2 linked regions of the Homo sapiens genome follow. The main gene of each other region encodes a partner of the protein of the gene in region 2 in a complex. Each region holds a gene or a part of one and is shown on either strand. Other genes may lie near its edges.

Region 1 (3,748 bases), on a different chromosome or scaffold from region 2:
TGAGACTCCATCTCAAAAATAAATAAATAAATATTAATTTTATGTATATATATATATATATATATAGAGAGAGAGAGAGAGAGAGAGAAACAGAAACAGAAGGATATATATATATTTGCACACAATAAGATATATATATGTGTGTGTATATATATATCCTCTTGGTTCTGTTTCTCTGGAGAACCCTGACTATTCCTGGTGATTTAGTCAAAATAACTGATCTCACAAGAGGCAGATACATAAGCCAGTATTAACTACCAAGTGGAGAAGAATAGTTATAAACACAGGCCAGGGTATTCTCTTCTATATCGAAATCTATTCAGAAGCCAAATAAGAAGAAGAAGATTGCATAATAAATATGGAATAAGAACAAAGGGAGGTAGCTAGAGCTAGAGCTAAGGGATATTTTATCTGGGTCCTGGTGAGAGTGCAAATCTCTAGTTACTAAAATATTTATACCCACCAGGTCTTCGGTGCTGACTAAATGTCAGATTCCTGCCCTCTGAATTCCTCCATGTCCCCTCTCCCACATTCTCTCTTTGGCCTGTACAATTAAATAGAGTTAACTATTCTTAATTACAGTCACATTCTGAACACGTCTTCTCCACCTTACACACCCAAATCAGATAACTAGTATGAACCATTCTCACGTGCAAGACACATTTATTGATAATCTTTAGTTCCATGGAGGGTTCGATTCATCTGCTTACTTTATTTCCAAGCTTTTGGAGAGACCCTCACTCCTCTTTGCAGTCTTCCTTTATTTATTTATTTATTTGAGGTGGAGTCTCGCTCTGTCACCCAGGCACAATCTTAGCTCACTGCAACTTCCACCTCCCACGTTCAAGCCATTCTCCTGCCTCAGCCTCCTGACTAGCTGGGATTACAGGCAACACGCCAGGCTAAATTTTGTATTTTTAGTAGAGACGGGGTTTCACCATGTTGGTCAGGCTGGTCTCGAACTCCTGACCTCGTGATCCGCCCGCCTCGGCCTCCCAAAGTGCTGGGATTACAGGCGTGTGCCACTGCGCCCGGCCTCTTCCATTATTTATGACATTGACTTTTCCGTAAAATAAATATATACATATTTTTAAAGTTAATTACAAACGTACAGAATGGAGAGGAGCACTTTAACAGCCATCACATGATTGGGATTTTGTTGACAGTAAACTAAAAGCTCCATGGGTCCCAACCTTTTTTTTTTTTTTTTTTTGACAGTGTCTCACTCTGTCACTAGAGTGCAGTGGCATGATCACAGCTCCCTGCGGGGTAGATCTCCTGGGCTCAAGCTATCTTCCCGCCTCAGTCTCCCGAACAGTCAGGGCTACAGGCACGTGTCACCACGCCCGGCCTGGTCCCCATAAGTCCCCTCTTCTCCGAGCCAAACATCTTCACACCTTCTGGTGATCATTAGTGGAGAGGCCTGTGAGAGGCTCTGGTGTCAATGTCCCTGAAATCGAGGGCTCCAAATTGGTCATGGCTCTCCAGATGGCCCAAACAGTTCCAGTTCACAAACATTTATTGAGCATCTACTACATTCCAGGCACTGTGGTTATTATAAATCACTGAGACACTGTTTGCCCTAAAGGAGCTACGTGTATTTGGTAACAGCTTCACAGTAAGTGACGAATAAGATAGCATTAATCCACATTTGACAGCAAAAGTACCAAAAAAGAAAGAAAGAAAAAGAAGAGAGAGAAAGGAAAGAAAAGAAAAGAAGAGAAAGAAAGAGGCCGGGTGCGGCGGCTCACGCCTGTAATTCTAGCACTCTGGGAGGCCGAGGTGGGCGGATCACGAGGTCAGGAGTTCGAGTCCAGCCTGATCAACATGGCGAAACCCCGTCTCTACTAAAAAAACATAAAAATTAGCCGGACCTGGTGGCGCCCGCCTGTAGTCCCAGCTACTCAGGAGGCTAAGGCAGGAGAATCGCTTGAACTCGGGAGGCGGAGGTTGCAGTGAGCCGAGATCTCGCCGCTGCACTCCAGCCTGGGCGACAGAGCCAGACTCTGTCTCAAAAAAAAAAAGAAGAAGAAAAGAAAAAGAAAGAAAGAAAAAGGATGGAAGGAGAGAAGAAAAGGAAAGGGGGAAGGGAAGGGGGAAGGGAAGGCGGAAGGGAAGGGAAAGAAAGAAGCGTATTTAGGCAGTATCGCGTTGATTTCAGTCCACGGAACCTCTGGTGACCGGGTAGTGTGACTCCGTCATTGGTAGCCCCCCGCCCACACAGCCGGGACTCGCGGCCTTTGAGGACGTGGGCAGGGCCAGTCTCGCCACGCCGCGGCCAATGCCCCGACCACACGCTGGCCACAGGAGTCCTGGCTCCCATTGGCTGCAGCGGGAAATGGTGAACCAATGCTCATAGACCTTAACGCCCTCCTCTCGGGATCACTTCCGCCTCTGGGGTCAGGCTCCGCCCAGCTTGCCCGGCATCACTCGCGGCATTGGAGTCAAGATGGAGGAGTACGCGCGAGAGCCTTGGTGAGCTTCACCGCTGTCTTTGCATTTCTCTTGCCCCCCTGCCCACTGCCCTCCTTCTCCCTTGTCCAGGCTCCCAAGGTGCAAGCCAGACTCAACCGCAGCCTCGTCGACTTGGGCCTGGTAACTGGGCAATGCGGTCTTTCGCGGCCAGTCGGCTTCTTAGCCCTGTACTTAGTACCTCCCCGGCCGCGTGAGCCTCCCTCTCCCAACCCAGCACCCGTGTGACCTTGTGATGGATGGTAAGGAGGTCCAGACTTGAGTTTGATAGAACCTCGGAACCTCCTCCCAACGCAGGGCGTAATCGACTTTATGCGGGGCCAGTTATAATCCCCCCTGTTCGTCGAGGTGACCTTGGGCGCGTCCCTCCGTCTCGCCTTGCTCAGTTCCTGCGTTGAGGAACTGAAGAATAGGCATTTGAGGGAGTGTCATTCTTGAGGTTTTACTTGTATCATGATATGTGTCCACAGAGTGAAGCATTTTAAATGAATGGAACATAGATTTTAGCCAAGGGGTCTGGATAAGCTTCTTTATTGCGTGGGGCCTTGTTTTCCTTCTTGGAATTCTTTCTTGAGGGTAGAGGGGGACAAAAATTACCTGGGAAATAGGAAGAGGTAATAGCATGTGTTCTCTGAAAAGCCATGGACAGAAATTCATTGTTACATCCAGCGTTTATTGAGTATGAATAAACCAGACACATAGATAATTATAAAACGATGTAATTGCTGTCAGAAGTCTCAGGTTGCCAGAGTTTAAAGTTTCTAGGGTCATAGGTAAAAAATCAAATCTTGATATTTCGGTTAATCATTTGTTTTATTGTGTAAGAGCAACAACCAAGATGTCCTCAATTTGTGAAAGTGCCCAGGACCTTAAATTACTACTCTGGTATCCTAGCCTTGTTGCATGTTTTATGTTCCCCTCTCCCATAAATGGCATACAAAATATAAGTTTTAGGGTCTCCTGGCTCTTCAAACTTATCTTCTTCAAAGCAGTTATCCTCCATTCTGGATTGTGCTCAGATATGTAGGACTCAGCACACTGTAAATAGCTGTTTGATGTACTATAATGACACAGGTTAGCAGAGAGTTAAAATATTTAACTATGTTGAGTTAAAGATCTTAGAAAAATAAGGCCGGGTGTGGTGGCTCACGCCTGTAATCCCAGCACTTTGGAAGGCCGAGGCGGATCACGAGGTCAGGAGTTCAAGACCAGCCTGGCCAGTATGGTGAAACCCCGTCTCTACTAAAAATACAAATATTAGCCGGGCGTGGTGGCA
Region 2 (3,748 bases):
TTACCCAGTGTGGTCTCAAACTCCTGGCCTCAAGCGATCCTCCTGCCTCGGCCTCCCGAAGCACTGGGATTATAGGTGTCAGTCACAGCGCCTGGCCAGAAGAGTTTTCGAGGGCTGGCTTTTCAGGTCGTTTTCTGGGCCTCAATGTCTATTTCTGACAATGTGGGGAAAAGAAAGATCAGATTGTTACTGTGTCTGTGTAGAAAGAAGTAGACATAGGAGACTCCATTTTGTTCTGTACTAAGAAAAATTCTTCTGCCTTGAGATGCTGTTAATCTATAACCATACCCTGTTATAGATGACGGGGTTCTCTATAACCAACCCCGTGCTCTCTGAAACATGTGCTGTGTCAACTCAGGGTTAAATGGATTAAGGGCTGTGCAGGACGTGCTTTGTTAAACAGATGCTTGAAGGCAGCATGCTCCTTAAGAGTCATCACCACTCCCTAATCTCAAGTACCCAGTGACACAAACACTGCGGAAGACCGCAGGGACCTCTGCCTAGGAAAGCCAGGTATTGTCCAAGGTTTCTCCCCATGTGATAGTCTGAAATATGGCCTCATGGGAAGGGAAAGATCTGACCGTCCCCCAGCCCGACACCCGTAAAGGGTCTGTGCTGAGGAGGATTAGTAAAACAGGAAGGAACGCCTCTTCGCAGTTGAGACAAGAGGAAGGCATCTGTCTCCTGCCCGTCCCTGGGCAAGTCTTGGTATAAAACCCGATTGTATGTTCCATCTACTGAGATAGGGGAAAACTGCCTTAGGGCTGGAGGTGGAACATGCGGGCAACAATACTGCTCTGTAAGGCACTGAGATGTTTATATGTATGCATATCTAAAGTACAGCATTTAATTCTTTACCTTGTCTATGAACCGTTGTTCACGTGTTTATCTGCTGACCCTCTCTCCACTATTATCCTATGACCCTGACGCATCCCCCTCTCCAAGAAACACCCAAGAATGATCAGTAAATACTAAGGGAACTCAGAGGCTGGAGGGATCCTCCGTATGCTGAACGCTGGTCCCCTGGGCCCCCTTTATTTCTTTCTCTATACTTTGTTTCTGTGTCTTTTTCTCTTCCAAAGTCTCTCGTTCCACCTAACGAGAAACACCCACAGGTGTGGAGGGGCAACCCATCCCTTCAGACAATTGGGAGGTGAGGGCCGATTGCCTTACACGGTGAGACAAGCGGCCTGACTCGTGACTATTTTTTTGGACAAATCAGGCAGCCACTGACTCCCTTCATTATGGCCTCAGCTTTATCTCTGGGCAATAAGTGTGATCCCTTCCTTCGCTGCGTCCTTTGCAGGGGCGGTGGCGCTCTGCAAGGCCCAAGGGGGCGTGGTCCAGATGACTTTGAATCCCAGTTGTCGCCCCCAGGGTCAGCCAGGAGACTAGTCAGAAGCAAACGCGCCTGCGGCAATCCGCCCGATGCCTTTGGTCTCTCTCGGGCTTCCGTCCACCCGCCCCTCCCCCGCGTTTCCATTGGCTGTAGCTCCGGCCCGGGGCGGGCGAAGAGGGAGCGAGTGGGCGGGGCCGCGTGGCGTCAGCGCAAGATGGCGGCCTCGGCAGCGGTGTTCTCGCGCTTGCGAAGCGGGCTCCGGCTCGGCTCGCGGGGACTGTGCACGAGGTTGGCGACGCCGCCCCGCCGGGCCCCAGATCAGGTGAGCGGAACGAGGGTGGCCCTCTGAATGTGGGGTCCCTTCCCTGGAGTTACGGACATATCGCCGCCCCTTGGGGGTTCCGGGACGCCTCACCTCAGGGTGCTGAATGAAACGCCGCTTGTGTTTTGGGGCCCTTCCCAACCTCCTGGGTGGTTGCTCCCCTAGGCTGGAGGCTGGGAATCCAGGTGTGTCCTTAGACCCCACCTCCCACCCACGTGGGTGCCGGAGGAGGAGGGGGTTACCGTTCCCCGTTTCAGTGACCACTCAGGTGATACTTGAGCAGGAGGGGCCTGGGACGCTGGAGTCCCAGTCTGGCCGTGGGAGTTATTTTCTCTGTGGCGTTGGTGGTGGCGAGGTAGACGTTTGGGTTTCCAATTCGACTTGCCTCCATGTTGACAGAGACCCAGCCATTCTGACCTCCAAGTCTATCACTTCTGTGCCTTAGTTCCCCAAGCCCCAGACAAGTGATTGCCCTTCCCCGCCTCCGCTCCTATCCCTTACCCTATAACTCTGCTACTTTTAGCCCCAAGCAGCCGGACGTCGTAACTCCCGGTTCTGTCTGTACCCCTTCCCCCACCACTTGTGCCCTCCGTTCCCTCTCATCCCAGTGTTTAGGCCCTCCCATCCCTTATTCTCCGTGCTTTGCTTTTCTGGGCTGCAGACCCTCCAGTCCTGTTGCCTTCAGGATCCTGTGCACCTGGCCTGTTAGCTTTTAAAACTCCTGGCATCCTGGTGCGGGACAGTCTGGTTTTGACCCTCTGAGCAGCCCCACATCCTGACTGCTACTCCAGGGACACAGATGTCCAGGGCTCTGTGGGTGTCTGCCTCTTGGCTCCTGAACTTGATTCTTCTTGGACTGGAGGGTGGGGACCATCCTGACCTCTCTTCTCTCTTGGCTGACCTCCCCTTTCTCAACCGCAGGCCGCAGAGATCGGGAGCCGCGGGAGCACTAAGGCGCAAGGGCCACAGCAGCAGCCGGGCTCAGAGGGTCCCAGCTATGCCAAAAAAGTTGCGCTCTGGCTTGCTGGGCTGCTTGGAGCTGGTGGGACTGTGAGCGTCGTCTATATCTTTGGTGAGGGACATATCCCTGTCCCCCAGTTTTGTTCCTTGGCCTCCCTGGTCCACTGTGGAACCTCCCACTCTTGCCCACTACCAGCTTCTCTCGTCTTCATTCCCTGGCTCCTTCCTCAATAGGGCAGCCAAATAAGACACCTACCTTGAAAACCAGGGAAGTCTTCTTTCTTCTCCCTTCCACTCCTTAAGGTTCTAGTCTTTCTAGTTGGTTCCTGTACCAGGATAAAGGAAAGAGGGGAAGATGGGGAAGGATAGGCCTGGATCAGCTTCCTAAACTTTGTCTTTCCTCAGCAGCCAAAAATCCAGCCTTCCCACTAGTTACTTTAAATCCCACAGACCCGGCCGGGCACGGTGGCTCACGCCTGTAATCCCAGCACTTTGGGAGGCCGAGGCGGGCGGATCACGAGGTCAGGAGACGGAGACCATCCTGGCTAACACGGTGAAACCCCATCTCTACTAAAAATACAAAAAAAAATTAGCCCGGTGTGGTGGCGGGCGCCTGTAGTCTCAGCTACTCGGGAGGCTGAGGCAGGAGAATGGCGTGAACCCGGGAGGCGGAGCTTGCAGTGAGCCGAGATCGTGCCACTGCACTCCAGCCTGGGCAACAGAGCGAGACTCTGTCTCAAAAAAAAAAAAAAAAATCCCACAGACCCAAAAGACCTAGCCCCAGCCCCATTTCTCTCAAAGACCCAGGAATCTTGGCTCCCAGCCCCCTCCTGGCTTGACTCCAGGAGGCTGTGCCTCTCTCTTTCCTCAGATCCAGGAGTCCAGGCCCCTTATCCCACTCCTCCCTCGGGACCCAGGGGACTGGGCCCTAATTCCTCATATTCATCCTGGTCTCCCTTGCAGGAAACAACCCGGTGGACGAAAATGGTGCCAAGGTGAGGGGGAAAGAGACCGAGGCCTTGCCAGGAGTCCTAGTCTGTGGGTGAGAGGGGTCCCCTTTGGTCTGTTCAGGCACATTGCTGGTCTGGAGTGAGCCTTTCTTTCCCAGTGACCTTTGCCTGTTCCTC

Evidence for each region.
Region 1: TIMM50 (region 2) and TIMM17A share a complex: the UniProt entries of both Homo sapiens proteins name them as parts of the TIM23 complex.

What each region holds. Positions count from the first base shown.
Region 1 is NC_000001.11:201,953,078-201,956,825, forward strand, and holds the start of TIMM17A (mitochondrial import inner membrane translocase subunit Tim17-A), read left to right. Parts: upstream 1-2,425; 5' UTR 2,426-2,449; coding exon 2,450-2,475; intron 2,476-3,748. UniProt on the Homo sapiens protein: Essential component of the TIM23 complex, a complex that mediates the translocation of transit peptide-containing proteins across the mitochondrial inner membrane.
Region 2 is NC_000019.10:39,479,301-39,483,048, forward strand, and holds the start of TIMM50 (mitochondrial import inner membrane translocase subunit TIM50), read left to right. Parts: upstream 1-1,537; 5' UTR 1,538-1,553; coding exon 1,554-1,661; exon of another isoform or gene 1,662-1,688; coding exon of another isoform or gene 1,689-1,760; intron 1,761-1,929; exon of another isoform or gene 1,930-2,016; intron 2,017-2,582; coding exon 2,583-2,733; intron 2,734-3,584; coding exon 3,585-3,616; intron 3,617-3,748. UniProt on the Homo sapiens protein: Essential component of the TIM23 complex, a complex that mediates the translocation of transit peptide-containing proteins across the mitochondrial inner membrane. Has some phosphatase activity in vitro; however such activity may not be relevant in vivo.